Homo sapiens: one gene and its partners. The protein of the gene in region 1 interacts with the protein of each later gene in a biochemical or structural test. Each region holds a gene or a part of one and is shown in the gene's direction. Other genes may lie near its edges. The genes, in order: GRK2, PLCB1, GNA15, HDAC6, FSHR, PDE6G and RHO.

Evidence for each region.
Region 2: the proteins of GRK2 (region 1) and PLCB1 form a complex in vitro, tested with the Homo sapiens proteins (one study listed by BioGRID).
Region 3: the proteins of GRK2 (region 1) and GNA15 form a complex in vitro, tested with the Homo sapiens proteins (one study listed by BioGRID).
Region 4: of the proteins of GRK2 (region 1) and HDAC6, one has a biochemical effect on the other in vitro, tested with the Homo sapiens proteins (one study listed by BioGRID).
Region 5: of the proteins of GRK2 (region 1) and FSHR, one has a biochemical effect on the other in vitro, tested with the Homo sapiens proteins (one study listed by BioGRID).
Region 6: the proteins of GRK2 (region 1) and PDE6G form a complex in vitro, tested with the Homo sapiens proteins (one study listed by BioGRID).
Region 7: the proteins of GRK2 (region 1) and RHO form a complex in vitro, tested with the Homo sapiens proteins (one study listed by BioGRID).

What each region holds. Positions count from the first base shown.
Region 1 is NC_000011.10:67,272,621-67,276,495, forward strand, and holds part of GRK2 (beta-adrenergic receptor kinase 1), read left to right. Parts: intron 1-3,875. UniProt on the Homo sapiens protein: Specifically phosphorylates the agonist-occupied form of the beta-adrenergic and closely related receptors, probably inducing a desensitization of them. Key regulator of LPAR1 signaling.
Region 2 is NC_000020.11:8,135,121-8,138,995, forward strand, and holds part of PLCB1 (1-phosphatidylinositol 4,5-bisphosphate phosphodiesterase beta-1), read left to right. Parts: intron 1-3,875.
Region 3 is NC_000019.10:3,156,287-3,160,161, forward strand, and holds part of GNA15 (guanine nucleotide-binding protein subunit alpha-15), read left to right. Parts: intron 1-1,441; coding exon 1,442-1,595; intron 1,596-3,875. UniProt on the Homo sapiens protein: Guanine nucleotide-binding proteins (G proteins) are involved as modulators or transducers in various transmembrane signaling systems.
Region 4 is NC_000023.11:48,815,195-48,819,066, forward strand, and holds part of HDAC6 (protein deacetylase HDAC6), read left to right. Parts: intron 1-189; coding exon 190-296; intron 297-380; coding exon 381-448; intron 449-689; coding exon 690-858; intron 859-946; coding exon 947-1,075; intron 1,076-1,270; coding exon 1,271-1,439; intron 1,440-2,131; coding exon 2,132-2,265; intron 2,266-2,846; coding exon 2,847-2,915; intron 2,916-3,025; coding exon 3,026-3,218; intron 3,219-3,872.
Region 5 is NC_000002.12:48,983,300-48,987,174, reverse strand, and holds part of FSHR (follicle-stimulating hormone receptor isoform 1 precursor), read left to right. Parts: intron 1-3,875. UniProt on the Homo sapiens protein: G protein-coupled receptor for follitropin, the follicle-stimulating hormone. Through cAMP production activates the downstream PI3K-AKT and ERK1/ERK2 signaling pathways.
Region 6 is NC_000017.11:81,649,903-81,653,861, reverse strand, and holds the end of PDE6G (retinal rod rhodopsin-sensitive cGMP 3',5'-cyclic phosphodiesterase subunit gamma), read left to right. Parts: intron 1-135; exon of another isoform or gene 136-204; intron 205-497; 5' UTR 498-556; coding exon 557-702; intron 703-2,176; coding exon 2,177-2,217; intron 2,218-2,711; coding exon 2,712-2,788; 3' UTR 2,789-3,403; downstream 3,404-3,959.
Region 7 is NC_000003.12:129,527,175-129,531,655, forward strand, and holds the start of RHO (rhodopsin), read left to right. Parts: upstream 1-1,464; 5' UTR 1,465-1,559; coding exon 1,560-1,920; intron 1,921-3,701; coding exon 3,702-3,870; intron 3,871-4,481. UniProt on the Homo sapiens protein: Photoreceptor required for image-forming vision at low light intensity. Required for photoreceptor cell viability after birth.

The sequences.
Region 1 (3,875 bases):
TGCTCCGGGAGCAGTAGGAGCTGGTGCAGGCCGCTGTAACTGCAGGGGTGCCAAGGTGGGACTGACTGCTCCTTCCCAAAGCTGGGTGGGCACCAAGTACCTCTGTGCCAAGGAGCCCTTGATACTTTGGCAGGGCAAGCCACGGGCTCTACCCACTGGGCCCGCAGTAGAGCAATGCAGTGCCTGAAGCTGGTCTGTGAGCAGAGGAGTCCCACCCTGCTCGGCTCAGCCCTGGCCACAGGCCCCATCCTCCAAGGCCCCATCCTCTCCGAGGACACGGCAAATGTGGAGCAGAGGCTTGAGCAAGACCAGTTACTGTGTGATTCTAGCATGGACTGTCGGTGAGCCGTGGGGCACTGAGAAATGGGGCTCTGGCGGCTCTCTCCCATGGCCCAGCAGGCGGGGCACGGCGGGCAGCATGGCCAGCCTGGCATATTAGAAGCCCTCCTTCTGCCGTGTCCACCCAGGCTTTGTAAATGGCCAGTGTGACGGTGGCGATTCAGCATCTCATTGACATCCTCATTTTACAGCTGGGGAAACTGGACATTTCAAGTTTGTGACCAGGTGGTGAGGGCCACTTGGAACCCAGGCACCCGTCCAACGGCCAGAGCAAAGGCAACTCTGAGGCCCTTGCCCAAAGGTGTTGGGAACCTTAGCGTCCTTCCATCTGGGACTGTTGAGGCCGCTTGGTTCTCCTGATGCTCCAGAGTAGATCTTGGGAGCCACGTTCCCCCGGATCTCAGGGTTGCTGACCTGGGTGGGGGACAGGGACACGCTCTGGGCTCACTGCCACTCCAGACTCTGCCAGTATCAGGGAGCAGTGTTGGAGACAAGGTGACCCAGTCCAGGAGGCTGTCCCACCCCTGTGCTCGCCCGTGCTTGCCACCCTGGCAGGAGCTGCCCCCAGTGGCAAGTTCTTCCAACCTGCCAGTTCCCTTGGCGGCCAGACCCATGGGAATAGACAGGAAACCCTAAAATTGCCACTTTGGGGGCCTTCCATTCAAGGACTCTGCTCAGGCCTGACCTCGTGTTTGGTTTCTTGCTTGGGGGGAGGGGGGTTGTTTATTTTATTTAAAAAACATTTTTTTCTTTTTAAGGAAGAAAGTGGAGTGCTGTGGGCTGGGAAGAATGTGGTGGCCATGCCCAGGCGTGGCTGCTGAGGGGAGAGATGGCCTCAGAGCCCCGGGTCCTGCTTCCTGCTGTTCCCAGGCCGGGGCTGACAGCAGAGCCCCTGGGAAGGAGAAAGGGCCTGCCCGGCAGGTTCCCCTGGCTGTCGCAGGCAGGGAACCAAGCATGCTTCCCCCTTGGAGACTTTGTGTGTCCAGTTGAAAAGTGGCAGTGGCTACTCCCTGGCTCCTAGGTGGCCATTCCCTCTGCCAAACTGGCACCTTTTTTTTTTTTTTTTTTTTTGAGACAGAGTCTCACTCTGTCACCCAGGCTGGAGTGCAGTGGCACGATTTTGGCTCACTGCAACCTCTGTCTCCAGGGTTCAAGCGATTCTTCTGCCTCAGTCTCCTGAGTAGCTGGGACTACAGGCGCACGCCACCATGCTGGGCTAATTTTTGTATTTTCAGTAGAGACGGGGTTTCACCATGTTGGTCAGGCTGGTCTTAAACTCCTGACCTCATGATTCGCCCGCCTCGGCCTCCCAAAGTGCTGGGATTACAGGCGTGAGCCACCGCGTCCCGCCAAGCTGGCACCATTTTTGCAGGCTCCTAAGAAGCAAGTCTGGGGCTCAGTGGGGCTTACTGCTGAAGCCCGGTGGCCCCCATTCCTGGGACAATGCCCGGCTCCTGGTGGGTGACCCCTACAGGCTGGGATTGCTTTGCCTGTCATCTGCATCTGCCTGTCGCTACCTTCCGCTTGACCAGCACCTTTTTTTTTTTTTTTTTTTTTTTTTTTGCTTTTTTTCATCCCCTTCTGTGGACCAAAATGTCCTGGCCCACCTCCCAGGTGAGATGCAGGCCCCTGACCTTGGGGTTTTCTCCACGTTCCAGTCTCCCAGTGCACAGCCTGTGCCCTGAGGGTCGCCCAGGGCCCAGGCCTCCTGTCTGCAGGTGCCAAGGGCAGGGACCGTGTCTTTCTCAATTCAAGAGATTTTTATGAAGCCCTTGCTGTGTGTGAAACACCACAATCTCCGTCCACCGTTTCCTGTGTCCCTGGGAGTCCCACATGCCGGGAAACATGTCCTTGACGGTGGCTGGTGGACATGAGCTGGCGTGTGGCCCGAAGGGGCGGGTGTGCTGGTGTGGACGCGGGGCCCATCCTCGGAGCTCCTGTCAGTTCTCAGAGGGCATCCTCACTCCCCGGTGGGGGGCATGGGCCCCCCTCTTCCCATCCAGGCAGGGTCTGTTCCAAAGCAGTCATAGGATGCGAACTCAGGGTCACCTAGGCCCATCCTTGTCTTCAGTGCCCTGCTTCCTGCTGGAGACAACTTTGGAAGAGGCCGCGGCCCCTCCCAGCCTCTGAGGGTGGGGAGCAGGCCAGGGGGTCGCGGCCTTGGAACCGTGCTCATGGCAGCCCTGCTGTGCTCGTGCTATCTCGCTCGGCCTTTCCTGAGGAAGGCTGGAACCAAGTGAGATCAGGGGCCGAGGCCCGGGAGTCCACTGCAGCCCTTCCTGGAAGGACAGTGCCCAGTGGAAGCGGATAAGAGCCCCCTCTCGAGGCCGAGGTCAGAGGCCAGGCAGGGTCCACAGGCCAGGTCCGCACTGTCTGGAGCTGCTCTCCGCAGACGGCTCTTCTGGCTGAAGCTGCCATTCTTCCAGACCCTCGGGCCCAAAGCCTGGAAGCCCTCACGGGGCTGGCCTCATAACCCTTCTCCCGGTCCCCGACAGCCTGAGCCTTCTCCCACCCACCCCCTTCCCCTTCTTCCTGCCCAAGTGTTGCCTCTGCCTGGGCTTCCTCCGCGTGGCGCCTCCAGTGGAGTCGGGCCACCCACCGCCCTGGACCAAGCCTCCTGAGTCCTGCTCTCCTGCCCACTCCTTGGCTGTGAAGCCCCCTGGTTTGCAAGGCCCTGCCCTCCGCCTCACCATGGCCTTTGTGTGCCCTCTCTCCTGCCCCATTGGCCCCTTGCTCATCCCTGGACATACTGTCCCCTGCCTGTTCCCACGTCTACCGACCCCCCTGGCTTCGCCAGCTGCCGAGATCCCACTTGCACTCCAGGAACCCAGTGGAGTTCCACCTTCTCCACACAGGCTTTCCAGACCCAGAGGCCTCCTCTCCTTCCCAAGGCTTCTGCACACGCTGTCTGGTATCACAGGCTCAGAACCATGCCCTGGGCAGGGCTGTTTGGAGCAGGGGGTGGCTTTGGCATGAGGTACACAGTGCCTCAGGGGTAGATGTGCAGCGGGTCCTCGTGACCACAGCCTGGGTGGCCAGTCCGACCAGCCCTGGGCTGGGCTCCTAGGGGCAGGCAGGGCCGGGGTGCAGAAAGGCAGGGGCCATGGCAAGCACAGAGAACCTGGACTTGCGGATCCAAATCTCCACCAGCTGCAGTCATTTCACGGGAGGCCTGCTGGTGGCCCCATAGACCTGCAGGGCCATGTGAGCGTGACATGGGCTCAGGTGTGTTGTCCCTTCAGGCCCCCAGCCTTGCAATGCCCTCAGCATGGCAGCTACACGTTACCCCAGGAGCCCAGACTAGTGAGGACCAGATGCAGGCCTCAGCTGGCTGTTGGGACAGACCGGCAGGGCTGGGCTTGAGGTGGGCCAGGAGAGGGCAGGAGGGGACAGTAAGGTGGTATTTGAGGCCGGGAGTGTAGCCTGGTGTGGCGCTCCCAGACAGCACTCAGTGTGGGGTGAGATAAACAGGGTGGGGGATGTCGGGTTGGGTTTTGAGGGTCACAATGGCCAGGCCCTCCCCTATGGCCATACCA
Region 2 (3,875 bases), on another chromosome or scaffold:
TGTTGAAGACAAAAAAGAACCAGATCTTGAATCAAAGGCCTGAGTTTACCTCCTAGTTCTTTCACCAGTAAGCTGCATGACTTTAGGCAAATCACTTAGCTTCTCTGTATTTTTGCTGCTTCTTGTGTAAAAGCGTGGTAATGTTACAGGACATTCAAAAATGATGAATTTGGGGCTGTTTAGGATGTGAAGAAATTATCTCTTGTTCCTGAAGTGATTAAAGCAGTATAATCACTGGTCTTGTTGTCTTGACCACCATATGGAATGGAAGATGTCACCCAGAGGTTGCAGTGCCATGCATAATTTGCTGGCCACCTACCAAGTCACAGTGAGGCTGTGGATGCTCTAAGGGTGGTAGTCGAAAGCTTTAACATAGGCACTAAACAATCACAACAGACAGCAGGGGGGTAATAGATCCTGGAGATACCCTGTTGTACCAGGGCCAGGCGTTAATATTTTTGCTGCTTGGTCATGGGGAGGTCTGGGAGTCCCCAGGGTCTGTGGATGGGTGGGTAGGTAGCTGGAGTTTTTTTGACTATTTCAGTATTTTAAAACTCATGGTGTATATTGTCTGAACATCAAGGCTATACCTGTCCTTCTGAACTTGGCATGAAGATAAAGGACTGACCTAATGATATTTAAAAAATTCAACCTCATGTCTTTGCTTTTGTTTTGCATTTGTCTGTTAGCAGGCTCTGGTGGTAGGAGGTGGGTGTAAAGGACTATGGGTATTTGTGGGAGAATTCTGGTGAGGTAGACAGTGGAAGGAGAGTTACTTTCTTGATCTAAGCTAGGGAGCTTGGGAGATTGTGAGAGAAGCTCCTCTCTCTTCTGGATCTTGGCCTTGGTCTATATTGGGCAGGACATGGAGAGAAAGAGCAAGGACTGTAAACTGTACAATAGGACCCCCAGCCACTGATTTGGCCCTGTTTTCCATGCCTAAGCACTCTGTCTCACTGTCGCACAACCTCTGAGGGATGGAAGGGTTTTCATTTATTTATTCCTTCTGTTTCTTCATTCTTACCTTTCAAATTCAGATCTTACTGTGGGCAGGTTGCTTAACGCATCCCAACTTCAGTTTCCTCAACGGTAACATGCAAATTGTAATATTTCCTAACTCAGAACAGCTGTTGAGGTTAAATAAATGAATGCATATGCATTGCTTTGTATAAAGCCTGACATACAGGCAACCTTCAATAAAACATGTTTTTAAAAGTTATTGTCGGCCGGGCGCGGTGGCTCAAGCCTGTAATCCTAGCACTTTGGGAAGCCGAGGCGGGCAGATCACAAGACCAGGAGATCGAGACCATCCTGGCTAACACGGTGAAACCCCCTCTCTACTAAAAATACAAAAAATTAGCCGGGCGTGGTGGCGGGCGCCTGTAGTCCCAGCTGCTCGGGAGGCTGAGGCAGGAGAATGGCGTGAACCTGGGAGGCGGAGCTTGCAGTGAGCCGAGATCGCGCCACTGCACTCCAGCCTGGGCGACAGAGCAAGACTCTGTCTCAAAAAAAAAAAAAAAGTTATTGTCCCTCAAAAATAAGATGGACGTGAATTTTATCAAGGTGATTAGCAGGTGTTCTATGGCTCTTTTATTCTACTAGTGGAAAAATTCAGACCTTACTTCCATTCCCTTTAATGTGTGTTTTGATTTTATACTTTATAATTTGGAGAAAAATCAGGTTTCTCACCTTCTTTTAAAAATCCAGGTGTTTCACGGAAAATAAGTACGTAATTTAGAGCAGGATCCATTCTCTACAGCAAGTCAGTTTACAAATAATCCAAAAGTTTATTTTTACTTAAATTCCATATAAAATATATTTATGTATATATGTGTATATAATTTAACATTGCACGTTCTGTCTTACAAGCATATTCTAACATGGAAAAATAATTGCTAGACTAAGTTGTCTGAGAAGTCTGATGAAACTCAGAAGTTTGGATTTGCGTTAATGCCATCTGGATTTGAATCAAGTAACTCCCTCCTTTACCACACCTCCAACCCCCACAGCTAAAACAGGTAATTTAAGAAATACTAGTATATTGCACACTTCCCAGCATCCTACACAAAAGCTTAGAACTTTTGCATTATGTGGAATCTGCTGTTCCAGTTTCCAAAATGATGACAAGTAAATGATGACAAGATGACACTCACAAGATTAATGAGAGAGCAGAGGGGAAAAGGGTTTGCGAGGTGGGAATTTAGTAGCGTTCACTTTGGAAAGGTTATGGGAAACAGGGAGGAAACTTCTCTGAGTTGGTAGCTGGCTGATGTGGATGGAGCAACTACAAAGTGCAAGGTGGATTTTAGAATGGAAGGCTAGCAGATGCCCTCTAAGGAGCCACTTAAATTTGCCCAGTTATGTCCATTTTTCTTGTCCAAAGAGCTTTGAGAATTTCTCATTGGCAGTCAATAATTACTGTAATCTAAGTGTAAGAGCATAACTCTTTTGCAAGCAAATCAATAAAACTACTTGAAACTTTTTAAAAAATCAGTGTAACATGCGTACAACAAAACACACAAATCCTGTGTCCAGCTGGATCCATTTTCACAAAGTGAACATTGCCATGTCATCAGTACCAGATCAAGAAACAGCATCACTTGCCCCAGAATTCCTGAGTGCTCTCTTCCAGTCCCTACGTCCCCTTCTAAGGGTAACCCTTATCTTGACTTCTAACTTTATAGTTTGGTTTTGCTTGTTTTTAATCTAATAAGCTATTTTTACTTTGAATGAAAACTTTAAAAAAAACCTCTTCAGCCTAAAACATTTTTATTATTGCTGAACTGATCCTCTTGAACAACAGCAACAAAAGTGACTTACAGTCAGTTTAGATGGCCATTGATTGGGTTCTTGTCTGTCCCAAGTCTGGGAAGTATAGCAGGTATAGTAAATGCCCTGAAGGAGCAAACAGTTCAACAAAACCCTAGTAATTTACAGAGGAAATGTAATGCCTTCAGGCTGTTATTGGCATGGCAAAGCTGACTAGTACAGTACTGTTGCTGGAATATAATTTTCTCTCATAGGTTTTCTCTCTTATCTTGCTTAACACTAATATTTCCCCACCTATGGTGAATGAGGATAATTTGCAGTGGCTATTAGTTTCATTTGAAAGTTTAGCCTATCAGTAAATAGCTTCAAGTTATATTTATCTGCAATGGTATATAAATGGAATGGGAACATTTTACTTTTTTATGTGGGATTTGGTAAACTGTAAATGTTTCCTTATCAGAATTGTTTCATGTTATCATGAACAAGAATCGCCAGCAGAAAATGGAAGGGGATTGCTGGTGAATTGTTGACTAACGCTATGGGTCTCCACTTAAATAACAAACCCCTGGTAACTGAAATCATTGGTCTTCTTGTTACTGGAGCTAATAATTAGGTTCATGCAACCTTTCAGATCATATCATAAATTCCAAATGCTCAGGCATATTTCACAGTCTTTTCCATCTAATCTTTTCCCTTTCTGTTCTATGTCTGATCCCCCTAAGCAGAGCCTTGTGCCCCTATGTGTAAGTAGGCAAAGGAAATATAGACATATTTCTGAGGTCATTTACATATATGACCATAAAAAAGCCATTGATTTTTGTAACTAACTAACTGAAATAGGATATAAAGGAACTAACTAATTGGAATAGATTATAAAGGATGCTTATGTTCTTTAAGAGTCTCTCTGGTTTTCCTCTGATCTCTTTAAGAGCTAATGTTCGATTTTATTATCATTACCATGTGTTAATTCTCAAAATTTTTATTTCAATTTGTATTCCAAAAATGGTTTGCATGTACCTATTAATTGAGGTTGACTAAATCTATGCATTTATCAAGAAACTAAATTATTATAAATTGAGTAACAAACTATTATATAAAATTGGAAA
Region 3 (3,875 bases), on another chromosome or scaffold:
CACACGGGACACATGTACACACGCAGTGCACATGCACAACACATGCACACGAACACACATGCACCACACACATGCACACTTGCATGCACTCACGTGCACAATACACGCATATGTACACATGCGCACACACATGAACACACACATGCACACACACAGTACACACATGCACACGCACACACAGGCACACACACGCACACACAGGCACACAGGCACACACATGCGTGCACACACACATGCACGCACACGCACAGGCTGGAGTGCAGTGGCGCGATCTCGGCTCACTGGAAACTCCGCCTCCCGGGTTCACACCATTCTCCTGCCTCAGCCTCCGGAGTAGGTGGGATTACAGGCACCCGCCACCACGCTCGGCTAATTTTTTTTTTGTATTCTTAGAAGAGAGGGGGTTTCACCATGTTAGCCAGGATGGTCTCAATCTCCTGACCTCGTGATCCGCCCGCCTCGGCCTCCCAAAGTGCTGGGATTACAGGCGTGAGCCACTGTGCCCAGCCAATAGCCTCTTTTAATAAGTACACCAGTCGTCTAGGATCAGGGCCCACCCTACTCCAGTACGACCTCATCTGGGTTAATTCCTCGTGTGATGGCCCTGTTTCCAAAGAAGGTCACAAACTGAGGTTCTAGGGGGTTAGGTCTTGAACGTATGAATTTTGGGGAAATATGATGTACCCCATAACACAAGGCATTTGAGACCTTATTGTACTTTTTTTTTTGAGATGGAGTCTCGCTTTTGTCGCCCAGGTTAGAGTGCAGTGGCGCGATCTCAGCTCACTGCAACCTCCGCCTCCCGGGTTCAAGCGATTTTCCTGCCTCAGCCTCCCGAGTAGCTGGGTTTACAGGCACCTGCCATCATGCCCGGCTAATTTTTTGTATTTTTAGTAGAAACGGGGTTTCACCATGTTAGCCAGGCTGGTCTCCAACTCCTGGCCTCAGGTGATCTGCCCGCCTTGGCCTCCCAAAGTGCTAGGATTACAGCCGTGAGCTGCCGCGCCCGGCCAGGTCTCCCTCTTCTTATGAGGACAGCAGTCACGGACTTGAGGGCCACCGTATTCTAGTATTGCCTCACCTTAACGACCTCTTCAAAGACCCTATCTCCAGGCCAGGTGCAGTGGTTCATGCCTATAACCCCAGCACGCTGGGAGGCCAGGAGTTCAAGAATCTCTCTCCAGATAAGGTCACACTCTGAAGCTCTGGGGGGACATGAATTTCGGGAGGACACACTTCCAACCAGCACAGGCACAAAACCATGTCAGGCACACCCAGGCAGCTGTCCATATGGAAACACGGGCACACCCGCCTCAGCCCCAGCCAGGCAGATAGGGGTGAGCCCATGCCCCTGGAGCCAACAGCCCCGTCTCCGCGATGGGAGGGTTTCCTGTCCCACCTGGCTGGTTGAAGCACTAACCTGCTTCTGCCCCCAACACAGAACCGCATGAAGGAGAGCCTCGCATTGTTTGGGACTATCCTGGAACTACCCTGGTTCAAAAGCACATCCGTCATCCTCTTTCTCAACAAAACCGACATCCTGGAGGAGAAAATCCCCACCTCCCACCTGGCTACCTATTTCCCCAGTTTCCAGGGTAAGTAATTCTAGAACTTTCTATACCCTTCAACTCCCAAAAGCAGCTCCGAAGAGAGATGCTAATCCAGACTCTACTTCAGCCTGGAGTCACCGGAACTTTCACATAGGATCAGACCCGCGTTCTAGACTCAGCTCCATCCACTGCCCGACCTCATTGAATCTGTTTTCCCTTCTGTGGAATGGAATAAAATAGCAGAGGCCCTTGGAACTGAGTAAAGTGAGGAATTCTAAAAACACGTAGCATATCACGTACACCTTAAACATTTTATTTATTTATTTATTTTTGAGACAGAGTCTTGCTCTGTCACCAGGCTGGAGTGCAGTGGCGTGATCTCGGCTCACTGCAACCTTTCCCTCCAGAGTTCAAGCGATTCTCCTACCTCAGCCTCCCTAGTAGCTGGAACTACAGGTGCGCGCCACCACGCCCAGCTAATTTTTGTGTTTTTAGTACGAAAAGACGGGATTTCACCATGTTGACCAGGATAGTCTCGATCACTTGACCTCCTGATCCACCCGCCTCAGCCTCCCAAAGTGCTAGGATTATAGACAGGAGCCACCATGCCCGGCCAAACATTTTATTTTATGCTTGTTGGCCAACATTTGGGGTTTGAGCCAAGATCCTTCAAGCATGGGTTTGCTATGTAGAGGTCACTGTTGTAAAGCACTTCTGGAAAGATTGTCTACTATTTCCAGAATCTGCCTAGGTTTTAAGAATGATTCTTTTTCTTTTCTTTCTTTCTTCTATTTTTTCTTTTTGAGACAGAGTCTCACTCTGTCACCCAGGCTGGAGTACAGTGGTGCGATCTTGGCTCATGGCAACCTCCAACTCCCCGGTTCAAGTGATTCTCCTGCCTTAGCCTCCCAAGTAGCTGTGATTACAGGCACGTGCCACCAAGCCTGGCTAATTTTTAGTAGTTTCCTGTCCTATTTTTAGTAGAGATGGGGTTTCACCATGTTGGTCAGGCTGGTCTCGAACTGACCTCAAGTGATCCACCTACCTCAGCCTCCCAAAGTGCTGGGATTACGGGCGTGAGCCACCGCATCTGGCCATAACGTTTCTTTTTCTAATCTTTCATAGTGATCTCATCTATCCCTAATTGGATAGCAATTTCTTTTTCTTTAATCCATTTTTTCTTTAATTTTTTTTTGTTTGTTTTTTGAGACGGAGTCTCGCTCTGCTGCCCAGGCTGGAGTGCAGTGGCGCAATCTCAGCTCACTGCAAGCTCTGCCTCCTGGGTTCACACCATTCTGCTGCCTCAGCCTCCCGAGTAGCTGGGATTACAGGTGCCCGCCAGAACGTCTGGCTAGTTTTTTGTATTTTTGGTCGAGATGGGGTTTCATCATGTTACCCAGGTTGGTCTCAATCTCCTGACCTCATGATCCACCTGTCTCGGCCTCCCAAAGTGCTGGGATTACAGGCGTGAGCCATCGTGCCCAGTCTATTTTTTCTTTAATTTCTTTTCTTTTTTTTTTTTTTTTTGAGATGGAGTTTTGCTCTTTTTGCCCAGGCTGGAGTGCAATGGCACAATCTCGGCTCACCGCAACCTCCGCCTCCCGGGTTCAAGGGATTCTCCTGCCTCAGCCTCCCGAGTAGCTGGGATTGCAGGCATGAGCCACCACCCCGGCTAATTTTGTGTTTTTAGTAGAGACGGGGTTTCTCCATGTTGGTCAGGCTGGACTTGAACTCCCGACCTCAGGTGATCCACCCGCCTCGGCCTCAAAGTGCTGGGATTACAGGCGTGAGCCACCACACCTGGCCTTTCTCTTTAATTTTTAAAGCAGAGCTTTGAACAATGTTTCCAAAGCACACAGCTTAGTTTTGTAATACAATGACCTTCTTTCATGCGGCACTTGTAGCTACAGATTTGCATAACGTTTCTTTTAATTACATATGAATCAAGACACGTACAATGGGCAAAAACAGGTTTGGGAACAAACTCTCAGTCCATCCAGAGGGTGAAAGGGCCACAGGGCAACTACAGAGAAACACCATCTAGTGTTGGGCACCACTTAGTATATTTTACAAAGGGGAGGCAGAGTTGTGGTTAATCCAGGGACCAACGTGGGGAAGGTACATATTCACTAGCACTTTCCCCAGAACACCACTGTGAGGATAAAGTGTGGTGGCGGGTGTCCTGCTTAGCTACTGCCGAGTAACAAACCATCCCCAAACTTAGTGACTTAAACTGGTCATTTTCCTTTGCTTATGATTTTGTGGGTCAGGAATTTGGGAAAGGTTGAGCTGGGTAAGTTCATCTCTGATCCATGTGACATCAGC
Region 4 (3,872 bases), on another chromosome or scaffold:
CCGCTTTCCTTCTATAAAACGAGCATAATGTAATCACCTCATATCATTGTCCAGTGAATTCAGTGAGGCACCCTTCTAAGTTCCTTGTTGCTTGACATGTGGTATGCACTCTCTTATTATCATCATTATTATTATTCCCTGGTCATGTCTGGTCCTTTCCTGATCCCCCTTCACAACTCCTTGCCCCAGGGTGGCTACAACCTCCGCGCCCTGGCTGAAGGCGTCAGTGCTTCGCTCCACACCCTTCTGGGAGACCCTTGCCCCATGCTGGAGTCACCTGGTGCCCCCTGCCGGAGGTGAGCCCCGGTGGAGGAGGGGAAAGCGGGAGCCTCACTGCCCGCCCACATTCCTTGACATCATATTTTCTCCCTGCCCTGCAGTGCCCAGGCTTCAGTTTCCTGTGCTCTGGAAGCCCTTGAGCCCTTCTGGGAGGTTCTTGTGAGATCAAGTAGGAAGTGGGGTGTGGGCCTGGTGTGGGGTGGACGTGGGATGAGCCCTGGGGGAGACTGTCTTCAGACTTCCTCTGACTTTACTGGGCTGCCTTGGTGGGAGAGGGTCAGGCCCTCTCTCTCTCCCTGGGCCCTGGTTTCAGGCCTCCCACCCCTTTTTCTGTTTGGGTCACCTGAGTTCCAGAGTATGACGGGGATTCAGATTGAGAGGGTAGGACAAACGTGGCCTCCCCCTTTTAGCTGAGACCGTGGAGAGGGACAACATGGAGGAGGACAATGTAGAGGAGAGCGAGGAGGAAGGACCCTGGGAGCCCCCTGTGCTCCCAATCCTGACATGGCCAGTGCTACAGTCTCGCACAGGGCTGGTCTATGACCAAAATATGATGAATCACTGCAACTTGTGGGACAGGTAGGCATTTGGAGGGCTGGATGAGTAGGTGTTGGGGGTCCCTCCCCCTCAGGCACTAAGCCTCTACCTCTCGTTTCCCCACTGCTAGCCACCACCCTGAGGTACCCCAGCGCATCTTGCGGATCATGTGCCGTCTGGAGGAGCTGGGCCTTGCCGGGCGCTGCCTCACCCTGACACCGCGCCCTGCCACAGAGGCTGAGCTGCTCACCTGTCACAGGTCAGACCCCGGTGCCTGGGGTGGGTGGATTCCCAGGACTGTGGATGAGGTCTCAGGGGCTGGAACTTGGGTTTCCCCTCCTGGGGAGCTGCTGCAGGACTTGAGAGGGGCTGAAGTCCCTGTCTTAGGGGTGGGGACCAGGGAGGGGACAGACCCTCCTCACTGTCCTGCGGGTGCTCCTCTCTGTGCTTCCAGTGCTGAGTACGTGGGTCATCTCCGGGCCACAGAGAAAATGAAAACCCGGGAGCTGCACCGTGAGAGTTCCAACTTTGACTCCATCTATATCTGCCCCAGTACCTTCGCCTGTGCACAGCTTGCCACTGGCGCTGCCTGCCGCCTGGTGGAGGCTGTGCTCTCAGGAGAGGTGTGTCCTCTGTGGGCTGGGGAGAGGAGGACCTGGGGGGAATGGAAAAAGAGAGCCATCTGCTGTTTCTGGAGGCTCTGAGAGAGTCAAGCAGGGCCTGAGGAAAGGGGCCATGGGGAGGGGCACGGGAGGGGGTGGGCCTAGAGGCTGGGGGAATAATGGAAGGAACTGGAGAAAGGGAAGGGTGGCCAAGTGCAGTGGCTCACGTCTGTAATCCTAGCGCTTTGAGAAGCTGAGGTGAGCTCAGGAGGTCAAGGCTGCAGTAAGCCATGATTGCACCACTGCACTCTAGCCTGGGCAACAGAGTGAGACCCTGTGTCAAAAAAAAAAAAAGGTCCGGGCGTGATGGCTCACACCTGTAATCCCAGCACTTTGGGAGGCCGAGGTGGGCAGATCACGAGGTCAGGAGATCGAGACCATCCTGGATAACATGGTGAAACCCCGTCTCTACTAAGAAACATACAAAAAATTAGCCGGGCGTGGCAGCAAGCGCCTGTAGTCCTAGCTACTCAGGAGGCTGAGGCAGGAGAATGGCGGGAACCTGGCAGGCGGCGCTTGCAGTGAGCCGAGATGGCGCCACTGCATTCCAGCCTGGGCGACAGAGCGAGACTCCGTCTCAAAAAAAAAAAAAAAAAAGGAAGAAAGGAAGGTGAGGGCAGGCTGTCCGATCTTAGCACCCTGCTGCTTCCCAGGTTCTGAATGGTGCTGCTGTGGTGCGTCCCCCAGGACACCACGCAGAGCAGGATGCAGCTTGCGGTTTTTGCTTTTTCAACTCTGTGGCTGTGGCTGCTCGCCATGCCCAGACTATCAGTGGGCATGCCCTACGGTAAGGACTCCCTGGGGACCCCCCAAATCCTGATCCTTGTGGGGACCTGGATGCTCCCCCCAGCCCATTGTTTACTCATGCCCCATGGTCCAGCTCCCAGGACTTCCTTCCCCAGAAAGAAGTAAGGGTGCAGTCCTTACCCAGAGAAGGACCGAGGATGGAGCCTCTCAGTGCTTATTTAGATAGGACCCCCAGATCATGTTACCTGGGCACTTACAAAACAGGATCCAGGGTCCCACCCCAGCATTTCTGGCCTATAGCAGCTGCCTCGACAGAACCCAGGTCTAGGCTCCTGATGCATACTCCAGAAGACCCACGAACCAGCCCCCAGCATTAGCTGCCCAAGGCCCAGGGTCCAGTTCCCTAGCAATGACCCAGAAGAGCCCAGGGCCCAGCCCCGAGCACTTGCTCAGGCCTACCGGGCAGCCCTTGGGAACCAGGATCAGACTTTTCTCCTTAACTGATAGGACCCAGGGTCCTGCCACTCAGCACTAAATGCCCCTGCAGACCCCAGGGGTCTAGCCCAGCCCTCTTCCAGGGCGTGAGTATCGTCGGTTACTGAGGTGCTGTCTCCTCCCCAGGATCCTGATTGTGGATTGGGATGTCCACCACGGTAATGGAACTCAGCACATGTTTGAGGATGACCCCAGGTAAGGGCTGCAGTCAGGGGCCGCAGTGTGATCAGGGAGGCGGGTGAGCACCTCAGGGGTACTGGAGCCCCTAACCAGCCATGGTCCGCTTCCCACCCCCTCCCTGGCAGTGTGCTATATGTGTCCCTGCACCGCTATGATCATGGCACCTTCTTCCCCATGGGGGATGAGGGTGCCAGCAGCCAGATCGGCCGGGCTGCGGGCACAGGCTTCACCGTCAACGTGGCATGGAACGGGCCCCGCATGGGTGATGCTGACTACCTAGCTGCCTGGCATCGCCTGGTGCTTCCCATTGCCTACGAGGTACAGCTCAGGATAGATCGCAGGACGTATGTGACACGCCTGTGCAGGTGGCAGCCTGGACCTGCCTCCTTGGCATGTGTGTGTGTGACTACCATGTGGCTGATGATATGAGACAGCGCATGGGTGTTTAATGAGGCTACCAGGGCAGTTGGTGGCTGTGATCACCTTGTGTATTTGTGCACAGATGGCTGTACATGACTGCCTTCTCTGTGTGACACTGTGTGAGTGACTGTCTTGGCTGTGTGTGTGAGGGCCTTCTGACTATGCACCAATGGCCCGTGTCCTGGCTGGATCTGTGTTGTATGTGCGTGCCATCACAAGTGCTTGAGTATGTGCGTGTGCGACTCTGTGCAGGCAGGTATTTCTCACCTTTTCTCTGTGTGATGGGTGTGATACTGTATGTCACTAAATGCAACCATCTCTGTGACAGCCTGTGTGGGACCTTCTGGATGTGGAAGGCTGTGTGTGACAGCAGTCACTGTCTGGCTGTCTGCCCTGGCTGTTTGTGTGTATGTCTCTGACTGGGAGGTAGCTGCCTTCCCTCTGTGTGAGCTAGGAGGCTGGTGGCTTGTGTATGGCTGACTCTGGGAGGGAGGGAAAGGGTGTGAGCACCGCTCTGTCACCCTGGGCGCCGGTGTGCATCTTTGGATCTGC
Region 5 (3,875 bases), on another chromosome or scaffold:
GAGCTTGTGGAAAATAGTGAATACATGAGTCATATTGGCCTGCTGGATTGTGAAACAAACACAACAGTAAAAGGATTCCTGGGTTACTTCACAGAGGGAGATTGGTGATAAATGTAAACATTTATACCTAGATGTTTATGTTTATTTGGATCTTTCTTGAAATATATGTTCATTTTAAATAGACTTAAATGAATGTTATAATATGGCAAACTTATTCAATTTTTTTATAGAAAATATATAATTAAGTGGGAGTGTGCTCATATCATTCTTGTAGTTTTGCATAGTGTGCTTATATTGTTCTCACAGTATCATTGATCTGACTTTTTTGTCCAGACCGTAAGACAGAAGGCAAAGCACTTTAAGTGACCTGGTCTCAACTCTCCCCAACTAGAGGCAAAGAACCTGAGGAAATAAGAACTTCTGACATAGCTTTGCAAACCCAAAGCTACAAGGGAAACATATAGATCCTGTCTGCTCTTTCCTAACTCCTGTTCATGGACACTGATCTCTCAGAATTTAGGAACACACTTTTCAGGAAAGGAGTTTTCTTTTAAGAGTGAATGTTTCTCAGACATGTCTCTAAAGGATAAACTCACTTTTGTGGAAACAATTTCTATTGTTCTTATTTTGGCTGTCCCTTAATCCATAGACAATAAAATCATGTAATTCATACTTAACACAACTTAAGTCTCCAATCGTTTCTAGTTTGGCAGCTTCGATGCAGGGGTGTTTTCTTCCCATGGGGACATTTGAGCACACTCAGAAAAAAAAAAAAAAAAAAGCATGGCAAATGGCGCTGATGACTGTTGAAGTATTCTATGGATAGCAATTTTCAAAATTCTGGGAATACTACACAGCTATAAAAAAGAACAAGATCATGCCCTTTGCAGCAACATGGATAGAGCTGGAGGCCAATATTCTAAGCAAACTAACACAGGGACAGAAAACCAAATACCATATGTTCACTCTTGTAAGAGCTAAACAATGAGAACACATGGATTCTAGGAAAGGAACAACAGACAATGGGGCCTACCTGAGGGAGGAGAGAGAGGATCACAAAAAATATCTATTGGGTACTATGGTTATTACCCAGGTGATGGAATTATTTGTCCACCAAACCCCATGACGTGCAGACTACCTAATGTAAAAAACGTGTACATGCGGCCGGGCGCGGTGGCTCACGCCTGTAATCCCAGCACTTTGGGAGGCCGAGGCGGGTGGATCATGAGGTCAGGAAATCGAGACCATCCTGGCTAACAAGGTGAAACCCCGTCTCTACTAAAAATACAAAAAATTAGCCGGGCGCAGTGGCGGGCGCCTGTAGTCCCAGCTACTCGGGAGGCTGAGGCAGGAGAATGGCGTGAACCCGGGAAGCGGAACTTGCAGTGAGCCGAGATTGCGCCACTGCAGTCCGCAGTCCGGCCTGGGCGACAGAGCGAGACTCCGTCTCAAAAAAAAAAAAAAAAAAAAAAAAAAACCTGTACTTGCTCCCCTGAAACTGAAAGTTGAAAAAAATTCTGAGGCCCTGTTCTAAAAGTAAATGTATTTTTAAAGCAACCAGCAATGAAAGATTATCAGACACTAGCCTAGTGAATCAGAGAAGTGAGCAATAAAAACCCACTGTGTAGAGGCTTCTGAGCCCTTCTGCACCCGCACTGTGCCCTGGTAAGCAGAGTGCCTGAATGGGGAAAGCACCTAGCTATGGCCAGCCAGGAGAATAATGTCCTAATTCAGAAGAAATAAAATGAGTGATATGCGTTACAGTGCCCAGCACACTCGGGCCTCAGGAGAGACCTGCTTCGTGCGTGTTTCCTCTGTTCCTCAGTCTGCCCGTCTCCCTTGCCTGCCCCTCAATGAGTTTTAAAGGGCCAAGTCCCCAGCACCTCCACTCTTTAGGATGAGAGCAAAGTTCACTTCTGTAGCTTCCTGAGCCTCTGCTGAGTGAGCACACTGGCCTCATCCCCAAGGACACAAAAGGGTTAAGGTAAGCCTGTGATGCAGTAACTCCTTAGTTGATGTTCTGCCCAGGTTGTTGTAGTCATCGTCATCATCGTCATCATCGTCATCATCTGGTTTTCAAATAGGTACTTCCTCTCTTAAGAGACCAGGGGTGCGTGTAATAAATGTGGGTTTCCCTTTGTTACTAGCTTGAGATTCCCACAGATAACGTAAATCCAAGGGCAGCAGTTCTGAACATAATTTGTTTTTTTTGTGTGATGATCCACTGCTGATATCAAGAAATACCATCCTCCTCCCCATATAATGGTATCTGTTGATTGAGATAATCCATAAAGACAAAGGGATATTTGAATACAATAATTATTTAAAATTAGTTTATGTTTTATTTGATTATAGCAACATCGATTTACAGGACAGTAATATGCAAGAAATATTAATTATCTAGTCAATAGGCAAATAGGTGGAACCTGTATGGATTAAGGGTCAGCCAACTACATATAACCCAGAGGCCAAATCCAGCTCATGAGCTAAGACAGGAAACACTAACATTAGATCTAAGTTAAGCAAAATGTTATCCCCCACTAAAAATTCTCTTCTCAATATTAGGCCTATATTACAAAAAAAAAAAATACCCAATTATTACACTTTGAATTTGGTCAATAAAAAATTGTGGTAATTGTTTTATAAGTACATAAAGTACTTATATAATATTTTTTATTTTTGCCTTTTGGCCCATAAAACCTAAACTTTACTATCAGGCCCTTTACAGAAAAAGTTTGCTGAATCCTGTATTTGATTCAAATCCCCAGGGATCCACATGCCACAGCTACCTCAGCAACTCCCACTATCCTGCAACAGTCAGGAGTCCAGATGTGCCTGGGAGAGGCTTTCTCAAATGGCATTGGGGGTGCATAGCCACTTCTTTGCCATCAGAACCCACCAATTGATTGTGAATGTTTTAAAAGATTTGCCTCGCCCCTTTCTGGATTTTTTTAGGTAATTGGTTTTCAAGAGGAGGAAAAAGACATACAGTTGTTCTCCTGTGATTTTAAGTGTTTTCTGGCTACCCATGGCAGCCCAGGAAAGAGAGTCCTGGATGCACAGGAGCTTCTCTGGGTCAGCTTTCTGTACAGTGTTATTTGCAAGCCCACTAAGCTGGACAGGGAAAAGAACCTGACAGCAAAACAAGAGCAGGTAGTCAGAGGTTCTTCGGGCTAAGCTCTCCTGACCTTGGTATCTGTTTTTGTTTTCAGATCCACTCAGGAGCAGAGCAAGGCAGAGCTGTAGCCCAAGGTGTCCTTGGGCTCCCCTGTCCAGGGAACCCTGCTCACTGACCTTCTTAGCGCAATCAGGATGGCTGTTCTACACCCATCTCCACCTCCCCCAGAACCTCCTCCCCTGCTCATTCAGATCACCTCACCCTGCCACAGCCCACATTCTCTGTAATTGATTTCTCTTCCTTTCTGGCTTAACCCAGAGCCACCTCCACAAACCTCCAATAACCAGGTCCCTATGGGTCACAGGAGATGTTCAGGTTGTCTGACAACTTAATTAGATCACTTTTGATGACAGCCAGGCCTGCTGCTGTGGGTGATCATGGGTGAAAGGCTTAAGGCCTTAGAGAAAGGTGACACAAAATGTTCTTTCTCTGTCTTATAAACACTTGTTCAATAATTGTACGATTCCTGTCCTTCAGGATGAGAAAGATCTGTCGCTCCCCGCATTGCTTCTCTACACACAAATGATGTGTGTAAAGACCTTACAGTTATAGAATCCAGGCTGCTCTGCCTAAGTATGCCTTTCAAACTTAAATTTCATTTAATCCTTTGAATAGGTAATACATGCAAGTAATACAAACTTCAAAAGTTACAAAAGATTATACAGCAATAAATCAGTCTTCCTCCCACCCGTGTCCC
Region 6 (3,959 bases), on another chromosome or scaffold:
TCCAGCCCAGGCAACAAGAGCAAAACTCTGTCTCAAAAACAAAACAAAACAAAAAAAAACCCAGAGTAGCAGTTAAATGCCGACGGGAGTCACGCTTCCCTGGGGTGGGGAACGCAGGGGAAGGGGCAGGAAGTTGTCAGTGGTCACCCACAGGGAGGTGGTGAGGACTCCAGGCTCAGGACCTGCCACAGGTTGGGAGGCTAGGTTTGCTGTGGATTGTGGGCCGGGGCGAGGGAGGCCAGGACAGGGGGGAGTCCGGAGCTGTGTGTGGCCAGCGTTGCAGGGGGGCATCCACTAGGCAAGGGGAATGGGAGCGTGCGGGTGGACCCAAGCAAAGCTGGCAGGCTGGTTACCCCAGGGCGGATTGCAGGGGCTGCTGTCTGGATGACGCTGGAGCTGGCGGGGCTGGGTCTCAGCCCCTCCACCGGTGGGTTGAGACCCCCACAAGGGTTGGAAGCAGGAGGGCTGACTGGGACCCGGGCCTGGTCTGCCCCCAGACCGCAGCAGGAGGGAGTCCAGGAGCCAAGGTTGCCGCGGTGTCTCCGTCAGCCTCACCATGAACCTGGAACCGCCCAAGGCTGAGTTCCGGTCAGCCACCAGGGTGGCCGGGGGACCTGTCACCCCCAGGAAAGGGCCCCCTAAATTTAAGCAGCGACAGACCAGGCAGTTCAAGAGCAAGCCCCCAAAGAAAGGCGTTCAAGGGTAAGCAGAGCTGGGGGATGGGGCCTCTGAAAGGGAGGAGGCGGTCCTGAGGCTGCACAGGAAGGGGAGGGCGGGGCAGAGCCTGGGGCCACTTCACTGGGTGAGTGGTCCCAGCCTCACAGCTGGGGAAGGTAGGGCGGTGCCTGAGGGCCTGAGCAGGGATGGAGGAGGGGGAAGGGGAATTGGGGGCTCCTGTCACCCGCTCCAGATGCTACTGCCAACCATGCTTGAAAATACAGCCACTGCCGGCCAGGCGCGGTGGCTCAGCGCTTTGGGAGGCTGAGGTGGGCAGATCACCTGAGGTCGCGCCCGGCCTAAAAAAAAGTTTTAATACCTGCCAAAGTAGCCCCCTAGGATCGCGAGTTTGAGACCAGCCTGACAAACATGGAGAAACCTGTCTCTACTAAAAATACAAATTTAGCCAGGCGTGGTGGTGCACGCCTGTAATCCCAGCTACTCAGGAGGCTGAGGCAGGAGAATCGCTTGAATCCAGGAGGCAGAGGTTGTGGTGAGCTGAGATCGCGCCATTGCACTCCAGGCTGGGCAACAAGAAGAACAAAACTCCGTCTCAAAAAAACAAAACGGCCGGGGGCGGTGGCTCATGCCTGTAATCCCAGCACTTTGGGAGGCCGAGGCGGGCGGATCACGAGGTCAGGAGATCGAGACCATTCTGGCTAAGAAGGTGAAACCCTGTCTCTACTAAAAAATACAAAAAATTAGCCGGGCGTGGTGGCGGGCGCCTGTAGTCCCAGCTACTCGGGAGGCTGAGGCAGGAGAATGGTGTGAACCCGGGAGGCAGAGCTTGCGGTGAGCCGAGATCACGCCACTGCACTCCAGCCTGGGCGACAGAGTGAGACTCCGTCTCAAATAAATAAAAAAAATACAACCACTGCCACCCAGGGACAGCCATGGCACAATGCACCGAGGAGTGTCCACTCACACATGCGCACACACGGGCATCTCGCTCCCATCAGTGCACCGAGGAGTGTCCACTCACTCGTGTGCGCACACAGGCACCGCGCTCCCATCAACGCACCGAGGAGTGTCCACTCACACGTGTGCGCACACACGGGCATGACACTCTTATGCACAAACACGCTCACACCTCCACATATGCACGTGAGGCACACTCACAGACAAGCCACCTTCACAAATCTACACTCAGACCATGCACCAACCACGCACCCCCCCGTACTCCCCCAGGGCACGCACCTGCCCAGCATCCTGGGACTTGCACCTCCTTTTCTAGGCCTCAGCCCCATGATGCTCTGGGCAGCAGACTCACCCTGGGTCTGTGAGGGAAGCCTCCTCAGATGCGCCAAGCCCTGGGAGGTTGGGGAGGAGGCGGGTCTCTGCCCACTGGGCTCCCAGCCAAACACCTCATCTCCTAGGAAGGCTAGAGATGACCTCGGGCCTCAGGCTGACTGAGCCAGGACTGGGCCCGGCCATGTCCCTGAGTGCTCTGTCCTTGCAGGTTTGGGGACGACATCCCTGGAATGGAAGGCCTGGGAACAGGTATGACGGCTGCCAGTACCAACCCGAGGTCTGCCCAGGTCCCCCCAGGCACACCCAGCACGCCCGGGGCCCATTGCAGCCCACCTCGGCCCCCACCTCCCCTGCTTTTCACTTAGGGACCCCCAGCCTGTCCATCACTTCTTCCCCCAACACTGAGCTCCAGATCCACTGGATCTAGAGGGTGGGGCTGTCCCCATTTGGGACACTTGCACCAGGTGAGGGGAGGGGTTTGGGAAAGAACAGAACCCCTCGCTGCCTCCTCCCCCTTCAGCAAGCCCCACCCTCCTCTGGTTCCCTCCCCTGGACCTGCTGCACCCACCCTCCTTCCCCCACAGCCAGTGTGTCCCCAGAGGAGGGCCCCACTCCAGCGTCCGCACGTCCCCGCTCAGCACACTGTAGGGCTACACCTGGGCTGTGGGAAACAGGGCCACAGGGGATGGGGGGGTCCCTAGGCCGTGGGATCCTCTCTGATCCGTGGCCCGTTTCTCCCACAGACATCACAGTCATCTGCCCTTGGGAGGCCTTCAACCACCTGGAGCTGCACGAGCTGGCCCAATATGGCATCATCTAGCACGAGGCCCTGCTGAAGTCCAGACCCTCCCCCTCCTGCCCACTGTGCTCTAAACCCTGCTCAGGATTCCTGTTGAGGAGATGCCTCCCTAGCCCAGATGGCACCTGGACACCAGGATGGGACTGCAACCTCAGGTCTCCCCCTACATATTAATACCAGTCACCAGGAGCCCACCACCTCCCTCTAGGATGCCCCCTCAGGGGCTGGCCAGGCCCTGCTCAACATCTGGAGATACAGGCCCACCCCTCAGTCCTGCCCACAGAGAGGCTTGGTCGGTCTCCACTCCCAGGGAGAACGGGAAGTGGACCCCAGCCCGGGAGCCTGCTGGACCCCAGATCGTCCCCTCCTCCCAGCTGGAAAGCTAGGGCAGGTCTCCCCAGAGTGCTTCTGCACCCCAGCCCCCTGTCCTGCCTGTAAGGGGATACAGAGAAGCTCCCCGTCTCTGCATCCCTTCCCAGGGGGGTGCCCTTAGTTTGGACATGCTGGGTAGCAGGACTCCAGGGCGTGCACGGTGAGCAGATGAGGCCCCAAGCTCATCACACCAGGGGGCCATCCTTCTCAATACAGCCTGCCCTTGCAGTCCCTATTTCAAAATAAAATTAGTGTGTCCTTGCCTGTCTGTGGCATATTTGTGCATGGGACAGGGCCTGTGGTGGGGTCACTTGAGCCGGAGCACATGGGGGAAGGGGTGGGCAGTGGGGCAGGAGGGGCTGGCCTGCCTGAGTGGGAAGACAGCCCTTGGGCTCACACTCTCACTGAGCCTTGCTGGTGGCCCCAAGACACGCAATGTCAGGCCATGGCTGGGTCAAGGCAGAAGGCCTTGGTGCACACCCAGGGGCCATAGTCAATGAAGCATGCAGGTGGCTGGAACAGGCCACACAGAGAAGGTGAGACTGGACATGGCTTACACCACACGCCGTGAGGCCGGAGCTCCTACTCCCACCTCACAAGAGAGAAACTGAGGCACAGTGACACTAGCAACTCCCCCAGAGCACCCAGCCAGCTCGTCCTTAGACAGTGCCCACTAAAACTGGCTGTATCTGGGCACAGTGGCTCATGCCTATAATCTCAGCACTTTAGGAGGCCAAGGCGGGAGGATCACTGCAGTCCAGGAGTTCAAGACCAGCCTGGGCAACATAGCAAGACCCTGTCTGTATTTGAAAATAACAAT
Region 7 (4,481 bases), on another chromosome or scaffold:
TCTATTTGTTTGTGGTCCCTGTGCCCCCTCACCCCACAAAAACACTGGCTTCTTGTGAGCAGGAGCTTGCTCTTTCGTGTACCCTGTGTGTCCCCAAGGACCAAGCACCTTGTCTGGGCCACAGTAGGTGCTCAATACACATGTTGGCTGGACAGTGGTCACTGAGCGGCCGCACGTCGGGCACTCTCAGCACTTGCACAGGCCGCCCCAGACACCCCACTTCATTCCTGGGAGGTGTCATCATGTTGCTTGGACGACGGGGAGAGGGGGACCTGCCAGTGTTGGCCTCCATTTTCCCCCAGTCATCTGCCCCCAAGGCTCTGACTACTTTCTTTCTCACGGTACATCCTGCTATTCTGGAATCGGCCCTCGTGGGGCCACCTGGTACATGGCATTTGAGGCCCTCGTGGCTGATTAGGCCTCCCCCAACAGTGCCCTGTCTGCTGCCTCCAGGGCCAGCCTCCCCTTCAGACTGGAGTCCCCTGAAGGGTTCTGCCCCTCCCCTGCTCTGGTAGCCCCCTCCATCCTCCCTCCCTCCACTCCATCTTTGGGGGCATTTGAGTCACCTTTCTACACCAGTGATCTGCCCAAGCCACTGCTCACTTTCCTCTGGATAAAGCCAGGTTCCCCGGCCTAGCGTTCAAGACCCATTACAACTGCCCCCAGCCCAGATCTTCCCCACCTAGCCACCTGGCAAACTGCTCCTTCTCTCAAAGGCCCAAACATGGCCTCCCAGACTGCAACCCCCAGGCAGTCAGGCCCTGTCTCCACAACCTCACAGCCACCCTGGACGGAATCTGCTTCTTCCCACATTTGAGTCCTCCTCAGCCCCTGAGCTCCTCTGGGCAGGGCTGTTTCTTTCCATCTTTGTATTCCCAGGGGCCTGCAAATAAATGTTTAATGAACGAACAAGAGAGTGAATTCCAATTCCATGCAACAAGGATTGGGCTCCTGGGCCCTAGGCTATGTGTCTGGCACCAGAAACGGAAGCTGCAGGTTGCAGCCCCTGCCCTCATGGAGCTCCTCCTGTCAGAGGAGTGTGGGGACTGGATGACTCCAGAGGTAACTTGTGGGGGAACGAACAGGTAAGGGGCTGTGTGACGAGATGAGAGACTGGGAGAATAAACCAGAAAGTCTCTAGCTGTCCAGAGGACATAGCACAGAGGCCCATGGTCCCTATTTCAAACCCAGGCCACCAGACTGAGCTGGGACCTTGGGACAGACAAGTCATGCAGAAGTTAGGGGACCTTCTCCTCCCTTTTCCTGGATCCTGAGTACCTCTCCTCCCTGACCTCAGGCTTCCTCCTAGTGTCACCTTGGCCCCTCTTAGAAGCCAATTAGGCCCTCAGTTTCTGCAGCGGGGATTAATATGATTATGAACACCCCCAATCTCCCAGATGCTGATTCAGCCAGGAGCTTAGGAGGGGGAGGTCACTTTATAAGGGTCTGGGGGGGTCAGAACCCAGAGTCATCCAGCTGGAGCCCTGAGTGGCTGAGCTCAGGCCTTCGCAGCATTCTTGGGTGGGAGCAGCCACGGGTCAGCCACAAGGGCCACAGCCATGAATGGCACAGAAGGCCCTAACTTCTACGTGCCCTTCTCCAATGCGACGGGTGTGGTACGCAGCCCCTTCGAGTACCCACAGTACTACCTGGCTGAGCCATGGCAGTTCTCCATGCTGGCCGCCTACATGTTTCTGCTGATCGTGCTGGGCTTCCCCATCAACTTCCTCACGCTCTACGTCACCGTCCAGCACAAGAAGCTGCGCACGCCTCTCAACTACATCCTGCTCAACCTAGCCGTGGCTGACCTCTTCATGGTCCTAGGTGGCTTCACCAGCACCCTCTACACCTCTCTGCATGGATACTTCGTCTTCGGGCCCACAGGATGCAATTTGGAGGGCTTCTTTGCCACCCTGGGCGGTATGAGCCGGGTGTGGGTGGGGTGTGCAGGAGCCCGGGAGCATGGAGGGGTCTGGGAGAGTCCCGGGCTTGGCGGTGGTGGCTGAGAGGCCTTCTCCCTTCTCCTGTCCTGTCAATGTTATCCAAAGCCCTCATATATTCAGTCAACAAACACCATTCATGGTGATAGCCGGGCTGCTGTTTGTGCAGGGCTGGCACTGAACACTGCCTTGATCTTATTTGGAGCAATATGCGCTTGTCTAATTTCACAGCAAGAAAACTGAGCTGAGGCTCAAAGAAGTCAAGCGCCCTGCTGGGGCGTCACACAGGGACGGGTGCAGAGTTGAGTTGGAAGCCCGCATCTATCTCGGGCCATGTTTGCAGCACCAAGCCTCTGTTTCCCTTGGAGCAGCTGTGCTGAGTCAGACCCAGGCTGGGCACTGAGGGAGAGCTGGGCAAGCCAGACCCCTCCTCTCTGGGGGCCCAAGCTCAGGGTGGGAAGTGGATTTTCCATTCTCCAGTCATTGGGTCTTCCCTGTGCTGGGCAATGGGCTCGGTCCCCTCTGGCATCCTCTGCCTCCCCTCTCAGCCCCTGTCCTCAGGTGCCCCTCCAGCCTCCCTGCCGCGTTCCAAGTCTCCTGGTGTTGAGAACCGCAAGCAGCCGCTCTGAAGCAGTTCCTTTTTGCTTTAGAATAATGTCTTGCATTTAACAGGAAAACAGATGGGGTGCTGCAGGGATAACAGATCCCACTTAACAGAGAGGAAAACTGAGGCAGGGAGAGGGGAAGAGACTCATTTAGGGATGTGGCCAGGCAGCAACAAGAGCCTAGGTCTCCTGGCTGTGATCCAGGAATATCTCTGCTGAGATGCAGGAGGAGACGCTAGAAGCAGCCATTGCAAAGCTGGGTGACGGGGAGAGCTTACCGCCAGCCACAAGCGTCTCTCTGCCAGCCTTGCCCTGTCTCCCCCATGTCCAGGCTGCTGCCTCGGTCCCATTCTCAGGGAATCTCTGGCCATTGTTGGGTGTTTGTTGCATTCAATAATCACAGATCACTCAGTTCTGGCCAGAAGGTGGGTGTGCCACTTACGGGTGGTTGTTCTCTGCAGGGTCAGTCCCAGTTTACAAATATTGTCCCTTTCACTGTTAGGAATGTCCCAGTTTGGTTGATTAACTATATGGCCACTCTCCCTATGGAACTTCATGGGGTGGTGAGCAGGACAGATGTCTGAATTCCATCATTTCCTTCTTCTTCCTCTGGGCAAAACATTGCACATTGCTTCATGGCTCCTAGGAGAGGCCCCCACATGTCCGGGTTATTTCATTTCCCGAGAAGGGAGAGGGAGGAAGGACTGCCAATTCTGGGTTTCCACCACCTCTGCATTCCTTCCCAACAAGGAACTCTGCCCCACATTAGGATGCATTCTTCTGCTAAACACACACACACACACACACACACACAACACACACACACACACACACACACACACACACACAAAACTCCCTACCGGGTTCCCAGTTCAATCCTGACCCCCTGATCTGATTCGTGTCCCTTATGGGCCCAGAGCGCTAAGCAAATAACTTCCCCCATTCCCTGGAATTTCTTTGCCCAGCTCTCCTCAGCGTGTGGTCCCTCTGCCCCTTCCCCCTCCTCCCAGCACCAAGCTCTCTCCTTCCCCAAGGCCTCCTCAAATCCCTCTCCCACTCCTGGTTGCCTTCCTAGCTACCCTCTCCCTGTCTAGGGGGGAGTGCACCCTCCTTAGGCAGTGGGGTCTGTGCTGACCGCCTGCTGACTGCCTTGCAGGTGAAATTGCCCTGTGGTCCTTGGTGGTCCTGGCCATCGAGCGGTACGTGGTGGTGTGTAAGCCCATGAGCAACTTCCGCTTCGGGGAGAACCATGCCATCATGGGCGTTGCCTTCACCTGGGTCATGGCGCTGGCCTGCGCCGCACCCCCACTCGCCGGCTGGTCCAGGTAATGGCACTGAGCAGAAGGGAAGAAGCTCCGGGGGCTCTTTGTAGGGTCCTCCAGTCAGGACTCAAACCCAGTAGTGTCTGGTTCCAGGCACTGACCTTGTATGTCTCCTGGCCCAAATGCCCACTCAGGGTAGGGGTGTAGGGCAGAAGAAGAAACAGACTCTAATGTTGCTACAAGGGCTGGTCCCATCTCCTGAGCCCCATGTCAAACAGAATCCAAGACATCCCAACCCTTCACCTTGGCTGTGCCCCTAATCCTCAACTAAGCTAGGCGCAAATTCCAATCCTCTTTGGTCTAGTACCCCGGGGGCAGCCCCCTCTAACCTTGGGCCTCAGCAGCAGGGGAGGCCACACCTTCCTAGTGCAGGTGGCCATATTGTGGCCCCTTGGAACTGGGTCCCACTCAGCCTCTAGGCGATTGTCTCCTAATGGGGCTGAGATGAGACACAGTGGGGACAGTGGTTTGGACAATAGGACTGGTGACTCTGGTCCCCAGAGGCCTCATGTCCCTCTGTCTCCAGAAAATTCCCACTCTCACTTCCCTTTCCTCCTCAGTCTTGCTAGGGTCCATTTCTTACCCCTTGCTGAATTTGAGCCCACCCCCTGGAC